7 linked regions of the Homo sapiens genome follow. The protein of the gene in region 2 purifies or fractionates together with the protein of the main gene of each other region. This does not show direct contact. Each region holds a gene or a part of one and is shown on either strand. Other genes may lie near its edges. The genes, in order: GINS1, MCM10, FBXO11, MCMBP, MCM4, EMC8 and NCBP3.

Region 1 (4,259 bases), on a different chromosome or scaffold from region 2:
ATGAAAGCTTTGTATGAACAAAACCAGTCTGATGTGTAAGTTTCATAAGATGATATTCTAAAACAATTCAATAATTAAGATGTTGAAATTGGCCGGGCGCGGTGGCTCACGCCTGTAATCCCAGCACTTTGGGAGGCTGAGGCGGGCGGATTACGAGGTCAGGAGTTTGAGATCAGCTTGGCCAACATGGTGAAACCTTGTCTCTACTAAAAATACAAAAATTAACCGGGTGTGGTAGTGGGTGCCTGTAATCCCAGCTACTCAGGAGGCTGAGGCAGGAGAACTGTTTGTACCCGGGAGGTGGAGGTTGCAGTGAGCTGAGATTGCACCACTTCACTCCAGCCTGGCGATAGGGCAAGACTCTGTCTCCAAAAAAAAAAAAAAAAAAAAAAAGATGTTGAAATCAGATAACCTTGCATTAGTTTTGGGATGCGATTTTTAAAAATTATCTGTAAAATTATCTGCTCTAGCTGTACAAATTAGCAAAAGTCTGAAGAAATTTGTGCTGATCACTGCTTAATAAATATCTGTTGTTTGGCTGATAAGAGTTGAAAGGAATTAGAGTGGACCTAAAATAAATGACATACCCTAAAATAAAAAATAAAAATAGGCTGGACACGGTGGCTCATGGCTATAAATCCCTGTGCTTTGGGAGGCCAAGGCAAAAGGATCAGTTGAGGCCAGGAGCCTGGACATATAGCAGGACTCTGTCTCTATTAAAAAAATAAAAATTAGCTGGGTGTGGTGGCACACACCTGGAGTCTTAGCTACTCAGCAGGGTAAGGTGAGAGGCTTGCTTGAGTGCAGGGGTTTGAGGCTGCAGTGAGCTATGATCACGTTACTGCACCCTAGCCTGGGTGACAGAAGGAGATCTCCATCTTTAAAAATAATAAATAAAAATAAAAACCTAACAAAGTGAAATACATGGTTCCCACTGTTTATATTTTTATCAACAGTTGCCTTAGTGAGTTTGTTAAAGGAAGAATAGGCAGTTTATTAAATGGATATAAATAGGAGCAGCAGTGATTTCTGATAGTTTGAGTGGAGTTCTCTGAGAACTAGCTATAAAAGGTTTCAGTGTAGTAGGTCCAGAGAGGTGACTAGATTTATTGACTCTTTAGAACTGAGCATGGTAGCTGGCACAGTGGAGAATTTGGGCGTATGACAAACTTCGTATGTTCCTGTGCGACACCAAAGGGAGTCAAGTACTGGATCAAAGTTGAAGTATTCAGGGTCTCAACTGTCTGTGACATGAGGTTTCCTCTTTGGGCTTGTTCGCTACAGTGTTTTTATCAGTTACTTGAATATAGAAATCAGTGTTATGGCTGGTAAGATTTGTGAGGCACATAAAATGATAGGAGCATTTCCAACTCCTGTGTATAAGGAGAGATACAGAAAAATCTTTACAGGTGGACTGAGGAAGTGAACCTCAACAGATTTGCAGTAAATATAAGGCAGATTTAAAGTCCTGAACTCAAGTCCCTAAGCCATTCATTGATTTACTCAAATATGTACTAAACAAATATGTATCAATAAGTGGCTGTGCTATTTCAGTGGTAAACAACAGTCAAGATGGCTTTCCCGGGCTGGGCACAGTGTGGCCCATGCCTGTAGTCCCAGCACTTTGGGAGGCCGAGGCGGGTGGATCATCTGAGGTCAGGAGCTCGAGACCAGCCTGACCAACATGGTGAAACCCTGTCTACGAAAAATACAAAATTAGCCATGCGTGGTGGCGCATGCCTGTAATCCCAGCTACTCCGGAGGTTGAGGCAGGAGAATCGCTTGAACCTGGGAGGCGGAGGTTGTGGTGAGTCGAGATCGCGTCATTGCACTCCAGCTTGGGCAACAATAGCGAAACTCCATCTCAAAAAAAAAAAAAAAAAAAAGATGCCTGTCCCTGGCGCTCACTGTCTAGTGCAGAAGACAGACATGAAATATAGATATGCCAAATTGGGATTCATGCTATGAAGGAAATCAGAAGAGTGCAAGGAGAAAGAAAAATGAATAGAAGGTCTAGCTTAAATTGAGGAATCAGGGAACTTCTCTCCAAAGAGGAGACATTTCAGCTGAGGCCTGCAGGAGATGCAAGTCTTAGGGAGGCAGTGACTGTGGGCATAGAACATTCTAGGTGGAGGGAACAGCATATGCAAAAGCCCCTGAATCATGGAAGAGAATGGGGCACTCAAGAAACTGACACTTAAAGAAGACCTATGTGGCTGGAGTTTGGCAAGTGGCAAAGGATGACACCAGATGAGGTGTAAGTGTGGACAGGTGGTGGTGTGTTTGTGTCTTAAAAGATAATGCTGGTTGCTGTGTGGAGGGGCTGAGAGGTGGGGGAAGCTGGTCACCAGGTTACTAGAGAGGTGACCCAGACTTGGTAGAAAGTGAGAAGGTTATAAATGTTTTGGAGGAGACCCTATAGGCCTTGGTTCAGTAAGGGAATGATTTTCTTGTATTCTCTGTGTTTATGCCATTCGCAAATTCATGATCCAAAATTCTTTATTCCACCTTCCTAGTTTCATCAGACTTTCATAGGGTGGCAGAAGTATATAGAACAGCCCTAGAAGACATGACAGGATGGGACATGTATTTTGCCTGTATTATCAGGGCCTAGCACAGTGCCTGGCATAGAGGCAGGCACTACATGAATGAATTCTTTTTATATGCATATGGTTGCTTAAAAACTCCAAAGTAGATTCTTATTCATTCAAAAGTTACATGTACTTTTTATAGGGTAAAACCAAAATTTTCAGTGTGAGAAATACTGAAGTATAGTACGTACACGTATTTGGAGATCAACAGATATTTGTAAGATGAGTGAAAGACCATTTTGACTCCATTTTACCTCACTTTGTTATAATGAGGATTTGGAAGCTCCACTGGAAGGGAGGTACTATGTAGAATAGCGACATGACGTAAGACCATAACCTCATGTCCATCATGTTAGCTTTGTCTCTTATCTCAGCGTGATAATGGAATCCTGAAAAGTGAATAACACAGTGTCTTTTAGAAAGAATAGAGATTAATCAGTGTGCAAAAATGCAAAGTACCAAATGCCTAAACAAAATGTATCTGGTAGCATGATCTTAGGCAAGTTGTTTAGGTTTTGGCTTTTTAACATATTAATAAAAGCTCTGATGTACAAATAGTTATTATTTGCTTAGGTTAACTGCTAATCACAAATGGATTAAAAACAAGCATGTAACTCAGTTGTTAGTTGGCTTTGAAAATTTTACTTATCCTGAAAAGTACATATTTTTTTTCTTTTTAAATGCTCCTATCAGGAATGAAGCAAAGTCAGGTGGACGAAGTGATTTGATACCAACTATCAAATTTCGACACTGTTCTCTGTTAAGAAATCGACGCTGCACTGTAGCATACCTGTAAGCTTCTCAGTTTTTGCTTGGGGTGGCAGGATTTTCTGTGTGGCTTCCCAGTTGACCATCTCAAATGGGTAACATGAAATCTTAGATCTCTCTCTCTTTGTAAGCATTCTAAATTTTTCCTCTGTGTTTTCATTTTTTTAATTTTTTATTATGAAAAATCACAACACTTTTAAAAGTAGGGAGAATAATACTATAATGAACCCCAGTGGAGCTATCATATGGTTTTAACAATTTTTATTATTTTGCCATATTTTTTTCATCGTGTTTCACTTGTTGGTGCCACACTATTTAAGTGCATCACGGTCTTTCACTACTGAATACGGTAGTGTTCTTACTATTTTTTCTTTGTCTTAGAAATAAGGACCTTTGGCCAGGCACAGTGGCTCATGCCTATAATCCCAGCAATTTTGGAGGCCAAGGCGGGTGGATCATCTGGGATCAGGAGTTCGAGACCAGCCTGGCCAACATGGTGAAACCCTGTCTCTACTAAAAATACAAAAATTAGCTGGGAGTGGTAGCGGGTGCCTAATCTCAGCTACTTGGGAGGCTGAGGCAGGAGAATTGCTTGAATCTGGGAGCCAGAGGTTGTAGTGAACGGAGATCGTGCCATTGCACTCCAGGCTGGGTGACAAGAGCAAAACTCTGTCTCAAACAAAAAAAGGCGGGGGAAAGAAAGAAATAAGGACCTTAGGGACCTTTTTCCCAGGACTACTGTGCTGCTGTCACACGTGGAGGAGTGGACAGTGCCTTCAGGTCGACTCTCAGACTGTGTTCATGTTCTTCTTGTTTTCCCTAAGATGTCTGTTTAGAGCTGGTGTGTTTGCATCAGGGGCCAAATGAAGTCCACACGTGATCCCCCGTTTATTCTTATGC
Region 2 (4,259 bases):
CTCTGGGTGCCCTACCCCTACTTCAGCCGCAGCAACTCAGCTTTCACCTGTCATGGGACTGGACTTTTGTGTAAGATTTCTTTTAAAGGATTCTTGGTTAGGCACAGTGGCTCATGCCTGTAGTCCCAGCACTTTGGGAGGCTGAGGTGGGACTGCTTGAGTCCAGGAGTGCAAGACCAGCTTGGGCAGCAAAGGGAGGCCCCCATCTCTACAAAAAATACAAAAATTAGCCAAGGCGTGGTGGCATGTGCCTGCAGTCCCAGCTACTACTTGGGAGGCTGAGGCAGGTGGATGAATCGATCCTGGGAGGTTGAGGCTGCAGTGAACCATAATTGCACCACTGCACTCTAGCATGGGTGACAGGGGGATAGTCTGTCTCAACAAATAAAAAATAAAACCGCCAGGCATGGTGGCTCACACCTATAATCCTAGTACTTTGGGAGGCCGAGGTGGACAGATCATTTGAGGTCAGGAGTTCGAGACCAGCCTGGCCAACATGGTGAAACCATGTCTCTACTAAAAATTAGCCGGGCGTGGTGGTAGGCGCCTGTAGTCCCAGGTACTCGGGAGGCTGAAGCAGGACAATCGCTTGAATCTGGGAGGAGGAGGTTGCAGTGAGCCGAGATTGCGCCACTGCACTCCAGTCTGGGTGACAGAGTGAGACTCCTTCTCAAAAAATAAATAAATAAATAAATAAATAAATAAATAAATAAATAAACGTAAAAAAAGGATTCCTTAAACCACCATTTTACAGTCTCACCTCAACAATTCCAAGCATTGTTTTCCTACTGTCAATGCCTCTGGTTATAAAACACTATCTTCCTCTAGGCTACCTCTTGTAGCCTGACAAGAAAAAGTGTTGAGATAACAGATCTAACTTTCTTTTAGTATTATGTTGACACTACCATGTTTTCAAATTACACTGACTCTAATGATCACGATCAATAAAGAGCTATTAGGTGTCTGTCTTTCCTCCAGCTCTGCTCTACAGAATGCAAACTCAAGTGCTAAAGAGAAGAGATGCCAGTTACCTTTTTGGCTTCTGCTAAAGCACTCAGTTTTGGTCTTGGTGGTGGTGACTCATCATAAAAGAGAACATCATCTCCTTCCAAGACACCTCGCCCCAGCTTGGGCGTCATTGTGGCCGGGGCTCCCTCCAGCCTGGGGAACTCGGATCCTGTCCGTGGAGGCTGAGCAGGGGGCTGTCTTGATGAAGATGGCACAGCTGGGCTCTCAACTTCACTTGAGCTCTGCAGAAATCTTTAAAGAACATACAGTCAAAATACGCAAACAGGGTTTACGAAAATAAAAACTCTAGAACTCAAAGTGGACTGGGAGGCGGCAGGCAGGCCACCAGTTGGGAGCTAGTTGTTAGCAAAATAATGTCCCCTTCTAGGCTGGTAATTCAAATTTGCACACGATAAGAACAATACTAGCTTTACTAACTCCTCCTTAATTGAGTTTTCTTTGAATAAGCTGTAATTGTCCTAACACTTTAGAACTGATAACTGTTTTTATCAATTGGCTGTCCAGTGGATGTCATCCACAAGGAACACAGCTGAAGACGCGGTGTGAACTGTATTCCCACCCCTACCGTCAGCTCTAGGGCCTGTAGGAACTCATTGCACCTCCCTGCATCTTTGTTTATGCTACTGGGAAGAGACAATACATGTGAGACATTTGGAAGTCATTAATGAAAAACACTGTAACTTGCAGCGATTATTTTACATCCCCTTTCTTTTTTTTGATTTTTTTGAGACAGAGTCTCGCTGTGTCACCCAGGCTGGAGTGCAGTGGCATGATCTTGGCTCACTGCAACCTCTGCCTCCCAGGTTCAAGTGATTCTCGTGCCTCAGCCTCCCAAGTGTTGGGATTATAGGCGTGAGCTATCATGCCTGGCAAAAAATAGTTTTAAGAGCTATTTTACTTTTGTTTTTGGAGACAGGGTCTTGCTTTGTCACCCAGACTAGAGTGCGTTGGCACGATTGCGGCTCGCTGCCACCTCTGCCTCCCAGGCTCAGGTGATCCTCCCACCTCAGCCTCCCGAGTAGCTGGGTCCACAGTGTGCACCACCATGCCCAGCTAATCTTTGTACTGTTTGTAGAGACAGGATTTCGCCATTTTGCTCAGGTTGGTCTCAAACTCCTGGGCTCAGGCGATCTGCCTGCCTCGGCCTCCCAAAGTGCTAGGATTACAGACATAAGCCACCAAGCCAGCCTCATAAGAGATATTTAAAAACAAATAACAAACCCCAGAAATCATCTAGTCCAAACTTCTCATTTGATCGATGAAGAAACTGAGGCCTAGGATCACATTACTCACAAGGGCCAGACTCAGGATTAGAGCCAGGCCATCCCAGAGCAGTACTCTTCCCAACCGCACAGCCACTCTTGCAAGCTCTAGGCTGTGTTTGCAAACTGCCTATCAAATCCTACGCAAAGATAAGGTTTCCTTGGCCAACAAAATTCTGAAAATTTTCATTACGCAATGCCTTCAAGCTGATGGGCATTCTCTATTTCCCACGAGGCCCCCAACTCCATACATATTTCTGTGTCCACGTATATAATTTATGTCATCTGTAGGCTCAAGATGAATAGCTCTATAGATATCCCACCGGCACTTCAAACTAATCTGCCTGAGACCAAACCCATTCTCTTACTTTCCCAAAGAATTTCCTCTTGTCTTATCATTGACTCCCTTTCATGGATGTGGTTGCCTTTCAGCAGCCCAGATTCGGGATGGCAAAAGGTTCAGCACCAGAGCACAACATGTGTGAGCCCAAAACTCGGCCCCACCATAAACTAGCTCTCTGATCTCCAGGCACACTATTAGTAAAACAAGGCTGAGAAGCCTCCGGAGGCTCAGATACTGTGTTTATGGAGTACGTATGAAGTGCCTGTGAACCGCAGCTCTCATTAGTATTCAGGTGACCTGAGTTCAGGAATCATTCATTTGTCCACCTACCCTATGCATTTCCACTTGATTTTTTTTTTTTTTAATTATTGGCTGAAGCCAAGTAACACATTTCCACTTGCTTTTGCCTCTAAAATGACTCTCCATTTTTAGTGCTTCAGTTTTGTCCTTTATCCAAAGAACTGTATTCTACTCACTGGCTCTGCCTGTCATAAAAAACTGAATTGCGGCAAAACCCAGAAATGGCAGCCAGGCAAATCCAGGCTTGCGTCCAGGAATTTGAGACCAGCTTGGGCAATATGGCAAAACCCAGTCTCTATAAAAAAATACAAAAATTAGCCAAGCATAGTGGCACATGCCTGTAGTCCCAACTACTTGGGAGGCCAAGGCAGGAGGATCATTTGAGCCTGGGACATGGAGGTTGCAGTGAGCCGACACTGCAGCATTGCACTTCAGCTGGGGTGACAGAGTGAAAACCCGTCTCAGAAAAAAAAAAGAGAGAGAGAGAGAAAATGACAGCCAGCATGTGAACCTACGCTCTCCCCCTTCACAAAAACCCTCTTTACATACACTTCACTCCTTTCCCTTTTCCATGGTGATAACGACTCTAACCTGTACCATTTGGTGTTGGGAGTCACCAGTGTAAGAAATAATACAGCCTTAAATGCTATTCAGGTTATGGGAAAACTATTTTAAACTTTCAGAGTTAAAACGCAGCCAACCGAAACCTGAAGTCACATTCTGGAAATCGATGAAGACGTTCTGAGGACGCCTGAGATGGATGACCCAAGCGGGGAATATTAAATCTGCTCCTCTTACCGCTTCTGTATTTCTTCTGATTTCCTTCTCCTCATCTCCAACATCCGCTGCTTCTGTTGCTTCAAGAGTGCTGAGGCCGAGATGGACTTGATGGCTGGTTTTGGGCTCCCCATAATCCCTGAAACAGAAGCCCAGACTGAGGGGGTGCCCTGGGAGGCTGAGGGAACACAGGGACACACGTGTGGCCATGCAGCTGATGGTACCTGAAGCTGTGGCTTTGGCTAAATGTTGTTTTAAGTTCCTGGCTCCACACGTCGGCAGGTCCATCAGTTCCTTGAACTCCTCAGAGCAAGACAGGCTCTTCTGGGGTATTCCTGTGCCAGGTCAACACCAGCTTTAGAGGATTCACATTCAGATGGTTTGAGGTCATATGACATACCACTTTCTAAACTCTGCACTTGTAATTTTAGTCATACGTAAACGAAGAAGACGGAATCCCAAGAGGAAAGAAAAGAATCCTTAACCTCTATCATCAGACTCATAGGATGGCAGGGTATCTCGACTATATTTTATTTCTAGTAATGATT
Region 3 (4,259 bases), on a different chromosome or scaffold from region 2:
TCAAATGCAAGGGATAATCTTTTTGTTTTCTTTAGGTTTTGATTTTACAGAGTTAAGAGACTCAAGTACATCCACAAGTTTTTTTGGTTTTTTTTGAGACGGAGTCTCACTTTGTCACCCAGGCTTGAGTGCAGTGGCACGATCTCGGCTCACTGCAACCTCCATGTCCCGGGTTCACGCCATTCTCCTGCCTTAGCCTCCCGAGTAGCTGGGACTACAGGTGCCGCCACCATGCCCAGCTAATTTTTTGTATTTTTAGTAGAGACAGGGTTTCACCATGTCAGCCAGGATGGTCTCGATCTCCTAACCTCGTGATCCACCCGCCTCGGCCTCCCAAAGTGCTGGGATTACAGGTGTGAGCCACCGCGCCCAGCTGATCCACAAGTTTTTTAAGGCAAATAGCAGCCCTCTCCCTCATTTCCTTTATCCAGAGGGCCCCACTTTTAATTCTTTTAGCTGATTCTTTTGATTCACATCTATTTTATTAAGTAACTCACTGTACTTAGTCTTCACTTTCCAGTTTTAGGTATTATCCACTGACTTCTATTATGGGACAGCAGAATTTAGCTCTCCTACCTCTCTATCCCCCACAATATATACTCACACATTGTATCCTTTCAGTGTAGTTTAACCTTAATTTTGGTTAGATTAGTGTGCTATTCAGAGTTGAGCCATAAAATATGACTTCTTTGCTGCACAATTTTTTGGATTTTTTTCTCCTTTGCTTAGCTTTCTAGTGACAACTCTATCCTAAACTTGTTGCTAGTTGTCCAAATCACCTCTTCTTTTTATTTATTTTTTTGACACAGAGTCTCACTCTGTTGCCCAGGATGGAGTGCAGTGGCCCAATCTTGGCTCACTGCAACCTCTGCCTCCCAAGTTCAAGCGATTCTCCTGCATCATCTCCTATAAATCACCTCTTAATACATTTACATTTACATTAGGTTTACCAATTTATCTTTCTGAACAGCTTTATTGGAGCTTTAACCTGCTCCAATCTGGTTGGCTGCCCTGGTCACAGGCATGCAGTCATTTACCACATTGTATTAATAAATTAGGTTAAGGATTAAATATGTCACCTAATTCCATCAAATATGGAGTTTATAATCTGTATCTTTTGTTTCAGAGTAACTTTCAAGAAAATAAAGCAGCAAAAAGTTTTCTTTTCTCAACGACCTTAAAATGAGAAGCCTCTACATTGGCACAACAATGATTTTACTACCTTTAGAAATGACAAAGATTGATTGACTTATAGTTTTATAATTTTGCAAGAAAACTTATTTTTATTATGGATTCAGTTAATGTAATTTTGCTTCAAGATTTTTTTGTTTGTTTGTTTTTGTTTTTGAGACAGAGTGTCTGTCGCCCAGGCTGGAGCGCAGTGGCGCACTTTCGGCTCACTGCAACCTCTACCTCCTGGGTTCAAGTGATTCTCCTGCCTCAGCCTCCCGAGGAGCTGGGACTTTTGGTGTGAGCCACCACGCCCAGCTAATTTTTGTATTTTTAGTAGAGATGGGGTTTCACTATGTTGGCCAGGATGGTCTGGAACTCCTGACCTCAAGTGATCTGCTCGCCTCGGCTTCCCGAAGTGCTGGGATTATAGGCATGAGCCACTGAACCCGGCCTGCTTCAAGACGTATTTTAATAGAATGCAACTATTTTGTTAAGCAATACCTCTAGTACAAAATAAATCAATAATACAGAACTGTAAGAAATTAGATTTTTTTTTTTTTTTGAGGTGGAGTTTCACTGTCTCCTAGGCTGGAGCGCAGTGGTATGATCTTGGTTCATTGCAACCTCCAAATCCCAGGTTCAAGCAATTTTCGTGCCTCAGCCTCCAAAGTAGCTGGGATTACAGGTGGGTGCCACCATGCCCAGCTAATTATTGTATTTTTAGTAGAGACGGGGTTTTGCCAAGTTAGCCAGGCTGGTCTCGAACTCCTGGCCTCAAGTGATCCACCTGCCTCAGCCTCCCAAAGTGCTGCGATTACAGAGCTACCAAGCCCGGCTGAAAAAAATTTTTTAAGAAGACGGGAATCTCCCTGTCACCCAAGCTGGAGCTATCACAGGTCATTACAACCTTGAACTTCTGGGCTCAATCAATCCTCTTGCCTCAGCCTTCCAAGTAGCTAGGATTATAGGCGTGTGCCACCATGCCCAGCTAATTTTTAGAATATTTCTTTAGTAGAGATAGGGTCTGTCTTGCTCAGGTTGATCTTGAACTCCTGGGTTCATGCAGTCCTCCTGCCTCAACCTCCCGAAGTGCTGGGATTACAGGTGTGAGCCACTGTGCCCAGCCTCTGCTTTGTCTTTTAATGCAAACCACAAAAGTTCCAACATGTATAAATTTTTTGAAGTAAAACATTCTTTATTAAATATGACAAAGTAGGCCAGGCGCGGTGGAGCTCTTGAAGTCAGGAGTTCTAGACCAGCCTGGCCAACATGGTAAAACCCTGTCTGTACTAAAAACACAAAAGTTAGCTGTGCGTGCTGGCAGGCATCTGTACTCCCACCTACTCGGGAGACTGAGACACAAGAATTGCTTGAAGCCTGGAAGGTGGAGGTTGCAGTGAGCCGCGATTGCACCACTGCACTCCAGCCTGGGTGACAGAGTGAGACTCTTGTCTCAAAAAAAAAAAAAAGACAAAATAAAAGGCATTCAAGAGTTTCACAAGAAACTCTCCAGATTAAAAAAGAGAGAAAAATGCTATCTTCATAGAAATAAACTTCCACAACTCTAATCTATAAAAACACTTACCAAATACTGTGAAATCTGGGTAAGAAAGAGGAGGGTGCTGGGAACTAACCAATGTTAGTACCTTAGACTTTCAATGAAGTGTAGTTGTCCCCAAGTAACTAAAGGCTATAATAAGCTTAGCTTATTATTATCTTCTAACTAAAGTGATGAAATCTAATGGCATGAATATGCCATGAATTTTTTTATTTTTTTGACAGAGTCTCACTCCTCTGTCGCCCAGGCTGGAGTGCAGTGGCATGATCTTGGGTCACTGCAACCTCCACCTCCCACCTCCCCACTTCAAGTGATTCTCATGCCTCAACCTCCTGAGAGGCTGGGATTACAGGCACACGCCACCACGAGGCAGTGTTTCGCAGTGTTGGCCAGGCTGGTCTTGAACTCCTGGGCTCAAGGGATCTGCCTACCTTGTCCTCCCAAAGTGTTAGGATTACAGGCGTGACCCACTGCACCCGGCCTCAAAAAATTTTATAGTTATTTGGCACTGCTATGACATTTTATTTATTTATTTATTTATTTTTTGAGACAGAGTCTTGCTCTGTCGCCCAGGCTGGAGTGCAGTGGCGCGATCTCGGCTCACTGCAACCTCTGCCTCCTGGATTCAAGCGATTCTCTTGCCTTAGCCTCTCGAGTAGCTGGGACTTGAGGCGTGCACCAACACACCCGGCTAATTTATGTATTTCTAGTAGAGACAGGGTTTCACCATGTTGGCCAGGCTGTTCTCGAATTCCTGACCTCAGGTGATCTGCCTGCTCGGCCTCCCAAAGTGCTAGGATTATAGGCATGAGCCACCACACCTGGCCTGCTATGACATTTTAATCTTATTTTACAAAAGTAACAACTCTGCACTGAACTGAGTATTAAACAAACAAAAGACAATTGGAGAACTGTGAACATTAAGAGAAAATTTGATGATATTAAGGAATTATTCCTAATTATTGAGGAGTGGATTAGCACTGTGGTTATGTGAAAGAAAAAAAAAACACCCATCTTTTAAAGACACATGGTAAAATATTTACAAGAGATGATGAAGTCTGGTATTTACTTCAAAATAATCCAGAGTGTAAAAAAGGTAGTAAAACGTATGAGGTATACATTAAACAAAATTGGCCATGAAATGATAGTTGTTGAAGGCAGACAATAGGTACCTGGAGAGTCATTACACTATTCTCTCTACTTCAGTGTACGTTAGAAATATTTCATTAAAAAAATGTAAAAATTAAAGGCAACACCCACACTGGAAGCAAAATAGCAGCAGAAAAACAAAACCACGGAGACATGGTAAGGAACACAGATTTGAGGAACTCACACAACACTAAACAGAACAGAACATAGCAATATAAATAACCAGAAAGATAGCTAAGTTTCTAAAGAAAGGAACATATGGAACAGAAAAATAGTAAAACAATACATCAGCAAAAGCCAAAATATGGATACTGAGGTAGAAGAGCAATCTTTCAAGCAAAGAAGAAAGAAAAAAACCCAATGTGATCTCAGAGTTCTC
Region 4 (4,259 bases), about 110 Mb from region 2:
GTATTAGATGACTAAAGGCAAAGCTTCCTCCCATTTCAGCTTTTTAAAAAGCTATTTGGGGCAGGTGCAGTGGCTCACACCTGTAATCCCAGCACTGTGGGAGGCCAAGGCAGGAGGATCACTTGAGCCCAGGAATTCAAGATCAGCTGGGCAACATAGCGAGACCCTGTCTCTACCATTCCTTACACTCACTGAAAAAAAAATTTTAGGTTATATACAACTACGCAAAAGAACCCAACACTGTAGGCCCATAAAGACTGCTCCAACCATTCGCTGACACAATAAAACTTTTCACCAAAGAACCCTTACGACCCTCAACATCTAATACTACCCTTTATATTACTGCTCCATTATACTAATACTACCCTTTATATTATTGCTCCATTATATAATATATAAAATATATAATATATGATATATATTAAATGAGACATTATATATTATATATGATATATATTATATAAGATATATTATATAAGATATATATCTGTTCCATTGTACTACTTTCAGAATACTATGGCAAAACATAGTTGGTGTATATAATTAGTTTATAACATATGCTTTAATCAAATTCATATGCCAAGCCTTTATCTTACGTTGTTAAATGTGAATTTGTCCATAGATACTCTTCTAAAAGTTATTCCTAGATCTGGCTTTAGTGCGAAGGAAGTCAGAAATGGAAGAGAAACATCTATGTACGTACCTGGGGTATCCAGCTGCCCCTGTTCCAGGAGAGTCTCATCGATTACAAGGGAAGTATTGCTGGGCAGCTGGAGGAGCCCACTGACCAAGCGATTGGCTGTGTAGTCTTTGTGGGGAATGAATTTCAAATGGTTCATGTTCTCTATAGTCATCTGCAGACGAAAAGACTGCAAAGAGAAATTTTTTAGTGAACAAGAATTTAAGTTTCCCTGTTTTAAGAAAATATGTACTTGGAATTAAACATTGTGTTTCATATGGAAAAAGTGATCTTATAAATTTCTAAGGGAGTAGTGATATGGTTTCTTGAACTCCAGAAGCAAAAATAGTATCTAGATCTTACATTTGAATTTCATCCATTTTATGAGCTACTTTATTCTCAAATGTCTTGTTCAATATTCTTGAAAATCAATTTTAATTTAACCAATGAAACAAATGGTAGATAACTGACATATAAATATTAAATACCCCAAAACCTAACCTCTTTCACCTAACACAAGCTAGCTAGCAAAAAGAAAATGTTAATTTTACTCTTCAAGACAGGGAGAGAAAAGCTTAATTTTCCTCTATATTCTTTGAGTTAAAATTGTATTCATTTATCATAGACATTTTTGAACAAACTTTTCAGAGAAAAATCAAGGAGCAGAGCACACTGAGCTGTGGATGGACCTGCAGCTCTCAGGAGGTGCCTCCAGGACGCGAGCACCTTCTCACTCAGTGTTTAACGAGTAAGCGAACCATCTATGCTCCTCCTCCAGCTCTTGAGCCACCATTCCCAACACCCTCTGTGCTCTGCCTTATACACCAATCCATTCTTCCATCCCTCCAGCCTCAAACAATGTGGCAGGGATGGAGAAGAGGGTATGGTGGGGGAAGGCTGTCAAGGAAGAGGTAAGATATATTGCGAAAATTTAGAGGAGTTTTGTGTATTACCTCAGTGATTCTAAGAAAACGGGGAGCTTAGGGGTGCTTAAATGACCTACCATGTATTAATTTATTTGTTGGTCTTCTACCTAAACTCTGTGAGGGCAAAGGATCTGTTTCAATAATTCTCAAAATGTGGTCCCGAGAACCCCCAGGGAATTGCTTAAACCCTTTTACAGGGTCAATCAGGTCAAAATCATGCATGGATAAAAGATCCTTTCAATGTGCGAGACTAATGAATTTTACCATAGCAGACTATGGAAAGTTTACGAATAGGATTTCAGATTCCACACTTAACTATCTTTAAGAAAATCTCATGTGGACAGTTTTGGTCTAGTATCAAAGACCACCACCCAGTTATCTGCAAAGGCTATCGAAACCATCCTTCCTTTACCATCTACTTTTCCATCTGTGTGAGGCCAGCTTTCCTTCATATACTTCAACCAAAACCTGAGACTACAATAGACTGAAGGCAGAAGCAGATACAAGCATCCATTGTCTCCTATTAATCCAGACATTGAAGAGATTTGCAAGAATGTAAAACAATGTCACCTTTATCACTAATCATTTTTGGCTTGGGAAAAGTTGTTTTTATAAAAATATTTATATGTAATTTTTTATTTTTAATAGGTGTATTTACTTTATCTTCTAGTTTGGTAAATTAATGATAAATATAATCATAACGTGAAAAACAGCTCTTTGAGTATGAACACATTTTTCAGAGTGTAAAGTGAGTCTAAGGAGACTGAGAACTGCTGGTATATTCCAGTCCACTTCTGCTTCTTGAGGGCCTGGACGAGTGTTAGCACTGAGACACTGAATACATTCGGTTCAATAAAGATCTAGTGCACCCTCTTCAATTTCCAAAGAAGTGATCAGTATTTTCAGTCACACAACTAATCAGAAGCAATTCCCCTGTTCCCAAGATCCTACCACCACGCAAATACTGCATTCCAGATACCCTGGCAAATAAAGTGAGCTCAACTTTCCAAACAGGAATTAAAATTGAGGCAATGGAGATAAAGAACTTTATTACCTCAACTAAAAGAATTATGCTCCTACAATTTAGAGTTTATTTAGATTTAAGACTTTAGTGTACAAAAAGGATACCAAATTGGACAAATTGGTATCAAGAGAGTGTAATTTTAAGGGAGTTACTACAATTGTTTTGTTAGACTTACAGAAATTTGTGCTTAGGCAAAAAGACAAAAAAAAGTGAAATGTTTAGGGGAACGTACATTTTAAATTATGTAATTTGGCAGGCTTTGTTTCCCCTTAAATAAGATCTATTAAAATCTCTAAGTTAAATATTTGAAGTGAATGAAAGACAGTTAGATGGATTTTTTAAGTGTGCTTAGGTTTATAATACATATTTATATTCATCTTACTGCTGGAACAAGATGTTGAATAATTCGATACAAGTGTTCTGTGAAGGTACTATTCCGTGGGCAACCACTCAAGTTAACTGTAAATTTTCCTAGTGGAAGGACATCTCTTCTTGTATATCTAGAAAAGAAAGAAATCAATCAATAAGATGCTGAAGTGACTTCCTGATTTCTATCAAATAGCGAAGAATAGAAAAATTAGCTTAATATTGTCATTAAAAATAAACCAGAATATTCTGACCAGTTATTTTATCAGAATAACAGCAATAAAAGTAATAGCCAATATTTGTACGTAAGTGCTGCTGGTCACGTGCCAAAGACCGTTCTGAGTATGTAAATGCTTCCTCATTTAACCCCTAACCATTCAGCGGTAGGTGCTGTTGTCTTTGCTTCACAGATGAGAAATCCGAGGCACAGAGATGATAATAAGCAACATGTTCATCTAAATGGAAGCTGACAGAGCTGGGATATGAATCCGGGTAGTTTGGTTCCAGAGCCTGTGCTCTCAACCATTATGTACTACTGTCACAGACTGATTTGAGAAAAGATAAGATTTACAGCACAAAGATGTTTCCTGCAACTTTATAATAGAGAAAAGCTAGGAAAAGCTAACATTTAGGGAAATGGTTACAGTATGGTACAACTGCATAGTGAAATACTTTGCAGCCACTACAAAGTTCATGAAGCATTATGATGGGAAAATGTTTAATATATATCAACTGCTGAAAACAAGACACGCATCTGTGCTTAGAGTGTAACTAAGACCTATGCAAGGATGTATACATATGTAAACAAAAACCAATGAACATGTACCTAAAGGTTAACGGAGGTTCTAAGTGGTGAAATTACAGATGATGTGCATTTTCCTCCTTATGTTCTTGGAACTTGTCAAAGGCCCACACTAGTTTTAAAATGAGAAACAAAGAAATACAGTGGAGTCAAGGGATGCGGTGCTAGTGTCAATGTCCACGTTAAACGTGCACATGACGTGGGCGCCTTGGGATGTATAAACAGAGCGTTCAGAATGCAAAAGGGATAAAACAGCTCATTTTACTCATCAGCCAGGTCCTTTATCTCAGGGGTCCCCAACGCCCAGGCCGTGGACCAGTACTGGTTCATGGCCTGTTAGGAACCGGGCCACAACATAGGAGGTGAGGGGTGGATGAGTGGGCATTACCGCCTGAGTTCCGCCTCCTGTCAGATCAGCAGTGGCATCAGACTCTCACAGGAGCGCGAACCCTATTGTGAACT
Region 5 (4,161 bases), on a different chromosome or scaffold from region 2:
CCTGTCTTTCAAGGGTCCACATATTTTAAACACGTCCATGTTCACGGTGGAGAAGGCGACTCACCTTTGCAATGGACAGAGTCTGCTGTTCCATGACTTCATGCAATACCGATCTTGTACTTTCATTCATCTTGTCGAACTCATCGATACAGCAGATGCCGTTGTCACTCAGGACAAGAGCACCTGTCTGCAGGACCAGCTGCCTTGTCTCAGGGTCTTTCATTACGTACGCAGTGAGGCCAACTGCACTGGAGCCCTTCCCAGACGTGTACTGGCCCCTGGGGACGAGGTTGTACACGTACTGCAGCAGCTGGGACTTGCTGGTACCAGGGTCGCCACACAGCAAGATGTTGATCTCAGCCCGAAATTTGCCCCTTCCAGTGTGACTAAAATCCTTCCTTGTCCCGCCAAAGAGCTGAAGCAAAATTCCCTAAATAATCAGAGACATGTCTAAACATTCATTTTCTGCACAGTTAACTGAGATGTAGTTTAAACTTTAGAGGTACTTTTCTCTCTTATAAAGAACTACAATTAAGAAATCACAGGAAGGTATAAAAAGGCTCGTGAAAGTGCTTGATATGCTTTAAGTTATCACTGACCAGTTCATCAGCACCTATCATTACACCAGAATGGTGGCCATGCAAGTCCCTATTCTGACACTGTGTGGCCTCTTCTGTTTAGAAACCTAAGTTTAGACCAGAGATGAGGATAGACAATGCTATGATTCTTCTCAACCAATGGCAAGTCAGGTTGCCAGCACTTGCTCTAACAGGCCACAACTCTGTCCTTTATGGCGGATGGCTCGAGTGGCGGAGTGGATGTTTATACTATTTGATCCCAAAGAATTGTAAATCCCAACCCCTAGTTTAAAATCCACTGTTACCTTCTTTATATCTTCATGTTCATAAATGCTTGGAGCCAAGGCTGAAGCAAGCCTCTCATAAATGTCTGGTTTCCTGGAAAGTTCCTTAAGCAATTCCACACGTTTCTCTGAAAAAAGTTTCTGTTCTGCTTCTTCATCAAGGCCATGCAGACGTTTTGCATCCGTTTTCCGATAATGAATGACATCAATGTGGGTTTTGTAGACAGACTTCACATTACTCACTCTTGGATTGACTCGAATAGGCACAGCTCGATAGATGCCTGAGGGCACAACCAGGAGATGCACTTTTACCTTCCCATATCTTCCTCCGAGTGGCTCAGCAACCAGCGTAGGCAACAGGTGCACTTCAGAGCGAGGCACCACGTCGGGCTGGCCCTGGAAAGGGTGAGCTCCACCGTCTCTTAAATGACCCTCCCAAGCCCAGGACTCAGGCCCACATTGCAAAGCTCCCGCTTGCTATGAGCAAGCAGGGAAATAGCAGCAGGAAACGGACAAGCTCGAAAGAACCAAGGTGGCTCATGTCTGTAATCCTAGCACTTTGGGAGGCTGAGGCAGGCGGATCACCTGAGGTTGGGAGTTCGAGACCACCCTAATCAACAAGGAGAACCCTGTCTCTACTAAAAATACAAAAATTAGCCGGGCGTGGTGGCACATGCCTGTAATCCCAGCTACTCGGGAGGCTGAGGCAGGAGAATGGCTTGAACCTGGGAGGCGGAGGTTGCGGTGAGCCAAGATGGTGCCATTGGACTCCAGCCTGGGTGACGAGAGCAAAACTCCGTCTCAAAAACAAAACAAAACAAAATGAAACAAAACAAAACAAAACAAAACAAAAGAGAAAGAACCCAGGTTTCTGCAAATGATAGACCCGAGGACGTGTTCACCTGGGCCCACTAGTCAGCAGTGCTCCAGGGCAACTGTAGCTACGTGAGCATGCCCACGGGCACAGTCACCCTGAGGGTGAAATGGAGCTGCTGTGCTTCTAGCTCAATGCTGGGTTCGTGGTTGTTTTTAATAAGCAGTATTTTTACTTCCCTAAGTTGAGTGTACAGAATCTGCCTAGCACTTACTTGACTGCAACAAAATGCTAAAATCCTCCAGTCATTAAAACTAGACTAGGTCCCCCCAACCTACCCACCACCCCCGACAAAAGCATGCAAATCATGCATTCTTCTGGAAGCCAGGCTCCTCACATACAGAGGTCTGATCTGATGTTCGTCTTTTCTGGATTTCAAACCAGAAGGCTTTAACTCCAGGCTGATTCCTGCAGCTTTTGGAGAAAGCCTGGCCTTTCCCCGTTACAGCTATCTCAACGCAATGGCACAGAGCACTGTCCTTGTTTATTCAGTGGGTCAGTGTAATTCTTGTTTAACACAACAAACCAGTTTACACACATTCTTAGAATACACACTATTCTTCACTCCAATATAGGCTAGGGATGGAAGATTATGTTTAAAGTGGCCCGGAATGATTTATCTCACAGAGCAGCATTGATACTTATTTCACATCTACACAGCACTTTCCACAGCCCCTTGGCCCCAAACACTCTCACACATGTATCATCACATTAACTCCACTTTGTAGGTGAGGAAACAAAAATATTGGACTAAATACTTTATCAAAGGTTTCAGGGTAGCAGGACTGGAAATGCGCACGTCACTCACTAAAAACTACGCATTCTTTCAAATTCTCCATGACTTCAAGTACTTTTACGACGGAAGATTGCCAGTGATAACTGCGGGACTTCACACTGGGGAAGAAACAGGGTGAGCACTGCCTCACTGAAGACAAGAGCCGATGCGTGGTGTGCCCCAGGCCCTCCGCTCAGGAGCAGATTCAGGCACTCCGCGACCGTCGCCACCTTGCCCATCAATGAAGAACCGTGCTGCCATCAACACTCCCTTGCCCCCAACCAAAATCCATTGTGACTCTACAGCATCAAAAGGAGGACTGCCACACTCATATGGTGCTGTGCAAAGAGCACTCTTGTGGCAGCAAGAGAAGGAGACCTGGGTCCTGGGTTCTGATTTACCGTGGCATCTGAGCTACTGCTGTCTATGCATCCCTGAACCTCAGCTTCTACACATGGAAACAAGTCACTGACTCATTTTTCTCTGTAACAAACAAATGTTAACCCTTGGCTATACATTTGGGAAATTAAGTAAAAATTACTTAAAACTCCAGCATTGGTGAGTAATACTTCTCTGAGCTGATGGCATAACTCAAAACTTTACCCATACAAGCCTGTCTGAGGCTGCTCTCTCATGATGCCAACAGTACTGACTTGAGACACACACAGCTCCAGGATACTGAGGTATCAAGAGGCGAGTGACCACACGAACCATGAGCTCCAACATTCAAGTTTGGGAAGAACTGAACAATTTCATACTGCTGGGCCATGGTACTCAGTTAAAAAGGTGGCAGATAAAGCAGGGATATACCCCACAGTCTCAAAGACAAGCAGTGACAACTGGAGGTAGAACTGGACCTGTGACCAAGTCCAATGACTCACTAAAGCACAGCATTGAAAGCAAGCCAGACATGCTCAAGTGCTGGTGCAAACCTACACTCTTACCTGTAACATTCACTCTGTCCCCAGGCTGGACCTTGTCAACGAGATCATTGTGAGCAAACAGGATAACTGTGTGTGGTGTCTGCCCTGCAGGCATGTCTTCCGGAGACTCCTGAAGCTTGATCTGAAGGTCAGCAAACAGAGAACATGTGGGCCACAAAGAGAGGGCAGGGGGACAAAATCTGCATGTCTTTGTACTGCTTTTGCCATATAAGGCTGCAGTGCATATCCCCACATAAATGATTGTCCATGTTTCTCATTATTTCCTTAGAAATTACTTCTTCTAAAGAAGTTGCTGCAACAGACAGCAACAAAACAGGGGAAGGAATGTAGGGAGCTGCGGTGGGGGAAGCTGAGATGCTTTTCATAAAGCAGGGTCGAGGAAGGCCTTTCCAAACCAGGTACCCTCTGAGAGGCCTAAGGATGCTGGGCTTTTCTCTAAGCCACTTTGGGGGCCTGCATGATTCTGAGAATAGGAGGCCATGTGCTCCTGCGGAGCAGGGTGCCTGCCTTTCTGTCTCCAGCTCTCCATCCCATGCAACATTAAAGAAACCATGCACACGCAGTCACAGAAAAACTCAAATCCTGTCCTCCCACATCTTTACAGTCACAATCACGGTAAATAAGCAATTTTCTACCTTCCCCTCACTTTTTTCTGTCATTTTAATAACTTCATCTTAAAATTTCATGAATATAGAGAAAAAAGACC
Region 6 (3,500 bases), on a different chromosome or scaffold from region 2:
CTGTTCTAACGTAGTGTTTATAACTTTTATGAATTTCCTAAACTTTAGGTCATTCCATCAAGTTTTATTATATGATTCATTGTTGGCCAGTGTTTTGCTTCATAGTTAGCATTTGATATGAGTAGGTTTCGGTGCCCGGCAGAGAGCCCTGGCCTGAGGCAGACACTCAGGAGGAAGCTTTTAGATACACATTGTAAGATGGCACCTACACGCTGGCCCGACATGGTGCTGTTGAGGGTGAGCAGAGTGGTCTGCCTTCAGGGTGCCTGCAGTTTCAGTTGGCAGCTGGCTCTTCCTAGGAACAAGGAGTTCCTGACTAGCAGGAACCACAGCGTGGCAGTCTTCATTCAGGATCAAGTGGATCAGTATTGGAGATTCAGTGCCTAAGACAGAGAAATGCAAAGTTGGCAGCTGTTTCAAATACTTTGACAGTTCATTAACTACACATTTTTTTTTTGGCGGGGCGGTGGCAGAGCAGACAGAGTCTCACTCTGTCACCCAGGCTGGAGTGCAGTGGCACGATCTCGCCTCAATGCAACCTCCACCTCCTGGGTTCAAAGTATTCTGCTGTCTCAGGCTCCTGAGTAGCTGGAATTACAGGCACCTGCCACCACACCTGGCTAATTTTTGTATTTTTAGTAGAGACGGGGTTTCACCGTGTTGGCCAGGCTGGTCTCGAACTGCTGACCTCAAGTGATCCACCCACCTTAACCTCCCAAAGTGCTGGGATTACAGGCATGAGCCACCACACCCGGCCAACTACAAATTTTTAGACTTCTTTTAAAATAATAAATTTTAGGCCAGCCATGTTGGATCACACCTGTAATCCCAGCACTTTCAGAGGCCAAGGCAGGAGGATTTCTTGAGCCAGGTGTTCAAGACCAGTCTGGGCAACATAGCAAGACCTCATCTCTACAAAAAAATACAAAAATTAGCTGGACATGGTGGCCTACGCCTGTGGTCCCAGCTACAAGGGAGGCTGGGGTGGGAGATCACTTGAGCCTGGGCAGTTGGGGCTGCAGTGAGCCATGATCTCGCCACTGTACTCCAGCCTGGGCAACAGAGCAAGACCCCATCTCAAAAATCAGTGAATAGAAAGACAGATGTTAAGAGTTCTTGAGCATCTGCAATGGTAGTTTTTCTTTTTAATGAGTGTTTCCTTACCCTCTCCCCAATAAAAATCAACAACCAGCATGATCAGTGTTAAGTAGGAGGGTAAGGGCTTTGCAAGCTCTTCATGGCAAGCGGCCCTGCCTTTTGCTTTCCAAGTTCCTCAGCAAATGCAGGAGCAGGCAGAGGTGGGTACATGGGCAGGCCTCCTGAGGGCTCTGTACCCACTCTTCACCACTTGCCGTTAGTGCTGTGGGGACCTGGCGCCCACCGAGTCCTGGTCAGTGCAGTGAAGCACTGCCTTCCCTCTGCGCTAGGAGCCACCATCGCACTGCTTTCTTCAGTACGATTGGCTTCTACCTGAAAACCTCCCCTTCCCTCTTAAGTCATATTTTTCTTAACACAGTCACATTTTTAAGTCATATTTTTCTTAATACTGCAGATTTATAATCAGTACATCACTTTGTCAATTTTGAAAACGAAAATACAATAATCATATAAAATAATTTGTTTTTTAAAAACATTATTAATTTTTTTTAGCCTAATCACAAGGGAAGGATTGTAATTGTATATAGTGTGCTTTGTTAAATAACTCACAATAATGCATGTATTTTTATGGCTGTTAAAAGAAAGATGGGGCCAGGCGCGGTGGCTCACGCCTATATTCCCAGCACTTTGGGAGGCCATCGCGGGCAGATCACGAGGTCAGGAGATCGAGACCATCCTGGCTAACACGGTGAAACCCCATCTCTACTAAAAATACAAAAAATTAGCTGGGCGTGGTGGCGGGCGCCTGTAGTCCCAGCTACTTGGGAGGCTGAGGCAGGAGAATGGCGTGAACCCGGGAGGCAGAGCTTGCAGTGAGCCGAGATCGCGCCACTGCACTCCAGCCTAGGCGACAGAGTGAGACTCCATCTCAAAAAAAGAAAAAAAAAGAAAGATGGATGGCTTGGTCCCTGCCACAAAAAGCTGAAAGCCTTGATTGTGCAGGGCAGACAGGATGCACAGAAGGAAAGCAGCACGTGCCATGGACTCTGTGTTAGAGCCTCTTAGAAATAAATCCTCAGAACTCCAGCAGGGCAGGGGGTCTCATCCAGGGTTTAGCAGGGCTTTGTGGTGAGGGTGGCATGTCTTCTGGGCACTGAAAGAGGGGAAGCAATTCAGTAAGGAGGCCTTGGTGTGGAGGGCCAGACGGGACAGTGTGAGTGAAACAAGACGGGCATGTGAGGCAGATGACATGTAGGCAGATTTCCTGACATTGAAGACACAGCATTGCCCCTGTGGCTGCACACGGTAGCTCAGTTCACCGTAACGAAGGCCTGCCTCTGCCAGCCTGAGAATAGCAGCCTTCATCTTGCAGGCAGTGGTGAGCAGTAGTCTGTGGGGCTGTGAGCACCAGGGGACGTGATGGAAGTTCTGTTTTAGGAAAATTTAGTTCAGGAGAATTTTCAGGTTACATCGGATAAGAAGAGCCTAAGCTGAGCTTCGTAGCACGTGCCTGTGGTCCCAGCTGCTTGTGAGGCTGAGCAGGAAGGATTGATTGAGACCCGGAGTTTGTGGCCATGATCACACCTGTGAATAGCCACCATGCTCCAGCCTGGGCAACGAAGCGAGACTCTGTCTCTTTTTTTTTTGACGTGGAGTCTCACTGTTGCCCAGGCTGGAGTACAGTGGCATGATCTCAGCTCACTGCCACCCCCGCCTCCCGGGTTCAAGCGATTCTCCTGCCTCAGCCTCCGGAGTAGCTGGGTCTACAGATGTGCATCACCACACCCAGCTAGTTTTTATATTTTTAGTAGAGACAGGGTTTCACCATGTTGGCCAGGCTGGTCTCGAACTCCTGACCTCATCAGGTGATCCACCTGCCTCGGCCTCCGAAAGTGCAGGGATTACAGGCGTGAGCCACTGCACCCAGCCGACCCTGTCTCTTTAAAAAAGAGAGCGAGCGAGTGACCGTAGAAATTATGAGACCGGTTAGGAAGCAGTTTTAGAAGCCCCTGCCTAAGGTGAGAGACTGAAGGAAATAAATGACAGGGAGAATGCAGGAAAGGAGGGCAGAGAAAGGACCTGTGGCCTGCAGGGTGGGGAAGAGCAGAGGGAAAGGTGGCCTCAGGTCGGAGAGGCTGGAAATGGACTGGCCTGCCTGAGAGTGGTGGGTTCCCGCTGGGAGGCTTTTGAGGGGGTAGCAGTCTTGGGGCCATCAGGCAGTGGTCAGGAGACTTCCGGAGTGCTGCTCTGCAAGGGAATGGGTTAGATGGCAGATTGCACAGAGCTGTGGTGAGGACATGGAGCAAGACTAGCGGCTTGTTAAAGAAGTTGAAGAAACAGTCATGGAAGGGAGGAGGGAAGCTGGACAGCAGCTAGAGGGAACCGGTTCAATGCTTTTGTTT
Region 7 (4,259 bases), on a different chromosome or scaffold from region 2:
CAGGAGGTAGAGGTTGCAGTGAGCCGAGTTTGTGCCACTGCACTCCCGCCTAGGCGATAAGAGTGAGACTCCATCTCAAAAAACAAACAGAAAAACAGAAAGAACCAGACTGGTTGTGATGACTCACACATGTGATCCTAACACTTTGGGAGACTGAGGCAGGAGGACTGCTTTAGCCCAGGAGTTGGTGACCAGCCTGGGCAACATAGGGAGACCCTGTCTCTACAAAATAAAAAAAAAATTAGCTGGGCATGGTGGCATATGCCTGAGGGCCCAGCTGAGGGGGAGGATGGCGTGAGCCTGGGGAGTCGAGGCTGCGGTGAGCTGTGATCATTCTACTGCACTCCGGCCTGGGCAACAGAGCAAGACACTGTCACCAACAAAAAAAAAAAAAAAAGGAAAAAAGAACCTGCAGATGTCAGGCCGACTTTTATTATAGGTTTTTCCTCAATTGCTGTCTGAATTTCTCACCCTTCCCCTTTGTGTTAGGACACGAGCAGAAGATATGAAAACAAGGCTGGCAGCTTCATCACTGGAATTGATGTCACCTCCAAGGTAAGACAGGCTATGATTTATTTATTCAGCTTGATAAGCAAGTGAACTTAATGAATTTGATCCCTAGGACATAACAGTAAATATTTCCTCTTTTATTTTGTTGCTGGATTTAAATTTTTTTTCTAAAAAAAATTGTGTTATTGGCCAGGCACGCTGGCTCATGCCTGTAATCCTAGCATTTTGAGAGGCCAAGCAAGTGGATCGTTTAAGCCCAGGAGTTCGAGACCAGCCTGGGCAACATAGTGAGACCCGTCTCTACGAAAGATACAAAAATTAGTCGGGTGTGGTAGCACAGGTCTGTAGTCCCAACTACTCAAGAGGCTGAGGTGGGAGGATCGCTGGAGCCTGAGAGGTTGAGGCTGCACTGAGCTGAAATCGTGCCACTGCACTCCAGTGGGGGCAACAAAAAAAAATTTTGTGTTATACAACGATGTCTTCATGCATCCTGAAACGGTACAGGCAGCATTTGTGTGTTCTTACAGCCATGAAAGGATAAAATCACTCTACTTAGATACCTGTGTTGAACCGTTTCCAAGAAAATGTCCAAGACGGGGGATGCTTTTTTAAATGGTATGTCCATTTCTAAAAAAATGTGTACTGTTTCCACTTGAAATGAAACAAAACATGAAAAGTGCCTGGCAGATGGTAGGCCCCCCATATTTAGGTGGAGTCTCGCTCCGTTGCCCAGGCTGGAGTGCAGTGGTGCGATCTCGGCTCACTGCAGCCTCCACCTCCTGGGTTCCAGCGATTCTTCTGCCTCAGCCTCCTGAGTAGGTAGGACTACAGGCGCCCGCCACCACGCCTGGCTAATTTTTGTAATTTTAGTAGAGACAGGGTTTCATTGTATTGGTCAGGCTGGTCTTGAATTCCTGACTTCAGGTGATCCACCTGCCTCAGCCTCCCGAAGTGCTGGGATTCCAGGTGTAAGCCACCGTGTCGGCATAATAGGCCCTTAATAAGACTATTGCCTTGTATCTGATGATTGCTATTACCAGATTACCACCTTCATTGTAACACCTCATAGAGTCAAGCCTATTATTTTCCTTATATGTAGTCAATACATGTAAGTTGCTTTAATCAGTGATGTTCCGTTTTAGACATTTTTTCTGATTTTAATGTTTACAGTTAAGTTTGGAACAGAATTTTGTATTACATTTCTGAATAATAGTATATATTGCTGTATTGAATACATAAAAGCAAAAATAAAAATATATTTCGTGCCTTCCTTTTTATAGTGTTTTTTTTTTTTTTTTGAGACAGAGTCTCACTCTGTCACCCAGGCTGGAGTTCAGGGGTGCGATCACGGCTCACTGCAACCTCTGCCTCCTGGATTCAATTGATCCCTCTGCCTCAGCCTCCCGAGTAGCTGGGACTACAGGTGGATGCTATCATGCCCAGCTAACCTTTTTATGGTTTATCTGTGTCTCTTGTGTTTCCAATCACTTAAAGGCCCCCCATCCCCGCAAAAAAAAAAAAAAAAAAAGAGAGAGAATTGGTCATCTTTTAGACAAGAAAAGAGAATAAAGTGAAAATCTTTTCTTACTGTAATTGAAAAAGTAAACTATTCATAATCTTACACTGTTTGCCATTATATGACACAGGTATATGGGAAAAGGGTGATAGTCTCAGAGTTAGTACTTTGTTTCTAAAGGAAGGTAAATTGTTGTTTGTACTAGGAAGACTTCAGTGAAGAAAATGAGCGTTAACTATTGGGAAAGAACAGAAGTGTTGCAACTTTACCAATCCCCACAAGCTCTCTGTAGTCAGACCTTCAATTAGTGTGGCAAAGTCAATATACAATTAGTGAAGGGGACTGGGCGCGGTGGCTCACATCTGTAATCCTGGCACTTTGGGAGGCCGAGGCAGGCAGATCACGAGGTCAAGAGATCGAGACCATCCTGGCCAACATGGTGAAACCCCGTCTCTACTAAAAATACAAAAATTAGCTGGGCGTGGTGGTGTGCACCTGCAGTCCCAGCTACTCAGGAGGCTAAGGCAGGAGAATCTCTTGAACCCGGGAGGCGGAGGTTGCTGTGAGCTGAGATCGTGGCAGCCTGGCGACAGAGTGAGAGTCCGTCTCAAAAACAAAAACAAACAAAACCAATTAGTGAAGGGTTCCTAAGAGCCATCAGAAACCCACAGTTGGACCTGGGTTTATTTTAGCTCTTAGAAGAAACTTACAAAGCTGATTATTTTTTCAGTAAAGTGTCAATGGTTCTTATCACTTAGAGATGAAAACTGGTGATTCCGTGGACACGAGGCTGGAAGAGGAGGGAGAGTTTCTTTGCTTCGGTGTTATTTTTAAACAGACTAGCTTTAGGGAGTGGACTGCTCAGGCAGTTATAATGTGGAAGAGCGTGATAGGTGTGATTACCATTGCTCAGACAATGTGAAGTGGTTGTAGGTGGGCTCCTAGAAATAGCACTGGAATCAGATCTGCTTGCTTAATAGCTGAAGTATCTCCAGCAAACCTTTTTGCTTTTTTGTGCCTCCATTTCTGCACCTGGAAAATTGGGATGTTGAAATTGTTTAGTTGTAATTTGTTGGCATAATTGATAATAACAAATGAAGTGTCATATAACTTTATAAACTTTAAAGGACTATTCATTCAGTCAGCAGATACTCACTGAGTTCCTACTATGTCCCAGGCACAGTGATAGGCTGTGTTATGTCGGAGATGGTTGCAAATTACAGCGATATTAACATATCCCCCCAGTCATTGAGTGTGAATATCCAGGTCTCTGCCAGACTGATTCAAGGTGTAGTGTTGCTTATTTCTTCTTTTTTAGTTCAGGTTTGTCACTGATGCATCATGATGCATGTGTGATTTAACTCGCCTTCTCCATATTTTACTACTTTCACTTTTTCTGTACTTTCTAGGAAGCAATTGAAAAGAAAGAGCAGCGAGCCAAGCGCTTCCATTTTCGATCGGAAGTAAATCTTGCCCAAAGAAATGTAGCCTTGGACCGAGACATGATGAAGAAAGGTACAGGGTGTTTTGTGGGAAATTTGTCCACATTTCCCCAGAGAGTGCCTTTTCCCTGCCATCACCTCATGCTTCTGGCCTTGCCTTGCGTGTCCACTCCTTATCCAAGCACTCTTGTGAGAAGGGACCTGTGAAGTCTCCATTTCTGAGGTCACCTGTTTAAAGTTCAGATGCTGTCAGCTGGCTCAGATGTTAGAGCTGGGAAATAAGAGATTGTCTTTTCTGAGGAGGCCCAGAAAAAGTTACCAGTTAGTGGCAGAGCTGAGATTCGAACCTGTGCTTCTAAGGACCCTTACTCATTTTCTCCTTTTATCGTAGAGGTGTTAACTTTTCTTTGCCTTTAAACGTAGTGAAAGTGTATCACAGTGAGACCTTCTTTTCGGGGAGTTAGAGCAATTTTGAGATTGGTGGGGAAAAGCCATTAACACTTTTGTTGATAATCTGAATCTATTGGCCAGGTGTGGTGGCTCATGCCTGTAATCCCAGCACTTTGGGAGGCCAAGGCAGGTGGATCACTTGAGGTCAGGAGTTTGAGACCAACCTGGCCAACATGGTGAAACCCCATCTCTACTAAAACTACAAAAATCAGCTGGGAGTGATGGCTGGCGCCTGTAATCTCAGCTACTCGGGAGGCTGAGGCGTGAGAATCGCTTGAACCTGGGAGGCAGAGGTTGCCGTGATCCGAGATTGCACCACTGCACTCCAGCCTGGGCGACAG

The links.
Region 1: the proteins of MCM10 (region 2) and GINS1 purify together in Homo sapiens (co-immunoprecipitation; one study listed by IntAct). This does not show direct contact.
Region 3: the proteins of MCM10 (region 2) and FBXO11 purify together in Homo sapiens (co-immunoprecipitation; one large-scale study listed by IntAct). This does not show direct contact.
Region 4: the proteins of MCM10 (region 2) and MCMBP purify together in Homo sapiens (affinity purification with mass spectrometry; 3 studies listed by BioGRID and IntAct, with this or other methods). This does not show direct contact.
Region 5: the proteins of MCM10 (region 2) and MCM4 purify together in Homo sapiens (affinity purification with mass spectrometry; 3 studies listed by BioGRID and IntAct, with this or other methods). This does not show direct contact.
Region 6: the proteins of MCM10 (region 2) and EMC8 purify together in Homo sapiens (affinity purification with mass spectrometry; one large-scale study listed by BioGRID and IntAct). This does not show direct contact.
Region 7: the proteins of MCM10 (region 2) and NCBP3 purify together in Homo sapiens (pull-down; one large-scale study listed by IntAct). This does not show direct contact.

What each region holds. Positions count from the first base shown.
Region 1 is NC_000020.11:25,413,820-25,418,078, forward strand, and holds part of GINS1 (DNA replication complex GINS protein PSF1), read left to right. Parts: coding exon 1-35; intron 36-3,284; coding exon 3,285-3,383; intron 3,384-4,259. UniProt on the Homo sapiens protein: Required for correct functioning of the GINS complex, a complex that plays an essential role in the initiation of DNA replication, and progression of DNA replication forks.
Region 2 is NC_000010.11:13,192,042-13,196,300, reverse strand, and holds part of MCM10 (protein MCM10 homolog), read right to left. Parts: intron 4,047-4,259; coding exon 3,936-4,046; intron 3,851-3,935; coding exon 3,733-3,850; intron 1,261-3,732; coding exon 1,032-1,260; intron 1-1,031. UniProt on the Homo sapiens protein: Acts as a replication initiation factor that brings together the MCM2-7 helicase and the DNA polymerase alpha/primase complex in order to initiate DNA replication. Additionally, plays a role in preventing DNA damage during replication.
Region 3 is NC_000002.12:47,825,982-47,830,240, forward strand, and holds part of FBXO11 (F-box only protein 11), read right to left. Parts: intron 1-4,259. UniProt on the Homo sapiens protein: Substrate recognition component of a SCF (SKP1-CUL1-F-box protein) E3 ubiquitin-protein ligase complex which mediates the ubiquitination and subsequent proteasomal degradation of target proteins, such as DTL/CDT2, BCL6, SNAI1 and PRDM1/BLIMP1.
Region 4 is NC_000010.11:119,837,832-119,842,090, forward strand, and holds part of MCMBP (mini-chromosome maintenance complex-binding protein), read right to left. Parts: intron 3,130-4,259; coding exon 3,012-3,129; intron 870-3,011; coding exon 704-869; intron 1-703. UniProt on the Homo sapiens protein: Associated component of the MCM complex that acts as a regulator of DNA replication.
Region 5 is NC_000008.11:47,966,780-47,970,940, reverse strand, and holds part of MCM4 (DNA replication licensing factor MCM4), read right to left. Parts: intron 3,577-4,161; coding exon 3,456-3,576; intron 1,144-3,455; coding exon 884-1,143; intron 431-883; coding exon 65-430; intron 1-64. UniProt on the Homo sapiens protein: Acts as a component of the MCM2-7 complex (MCM complex) which is the replicative helicase essential for 'once per cell cycle' DNA replication initiation and elongation in eukaryotic cells.
Region 6 is NC_000016.10:85,782,545-85,786,044, reverse strand, and holds part of EMC8 (ER membrane protein complex subunit 8), read left to right. Parts: intron 1-3,500. UniProt on the Homo sapiens protein: Part of the endoplasmic reticulum membrane protein complex (EMC) that enables the energy-independent insertion into endoplasmic reticulum membranes of newly synthesized membrane proteins.
Region 7 is NC_000017.11:3,839,382-3,843,640, reverse strand, and holds part of NCBP3 (nuclear cap-binding protein subunit 3), read left to right. Parts: intron 1-489; coding exon 490-555; intron 556-3,435; coding exon 3,436-3,541; intron 3,542-4,259. UniProt on the Homo sapiens protein: Associates with NCBP1/CBP80 to form an alternative cap-binding complex (CBC) which plays a key role in mRNA export. NCBP3 serves as adapter protein linking the capped RNAs (m7GpppG-capped RNA) to NCBP1/CBP80.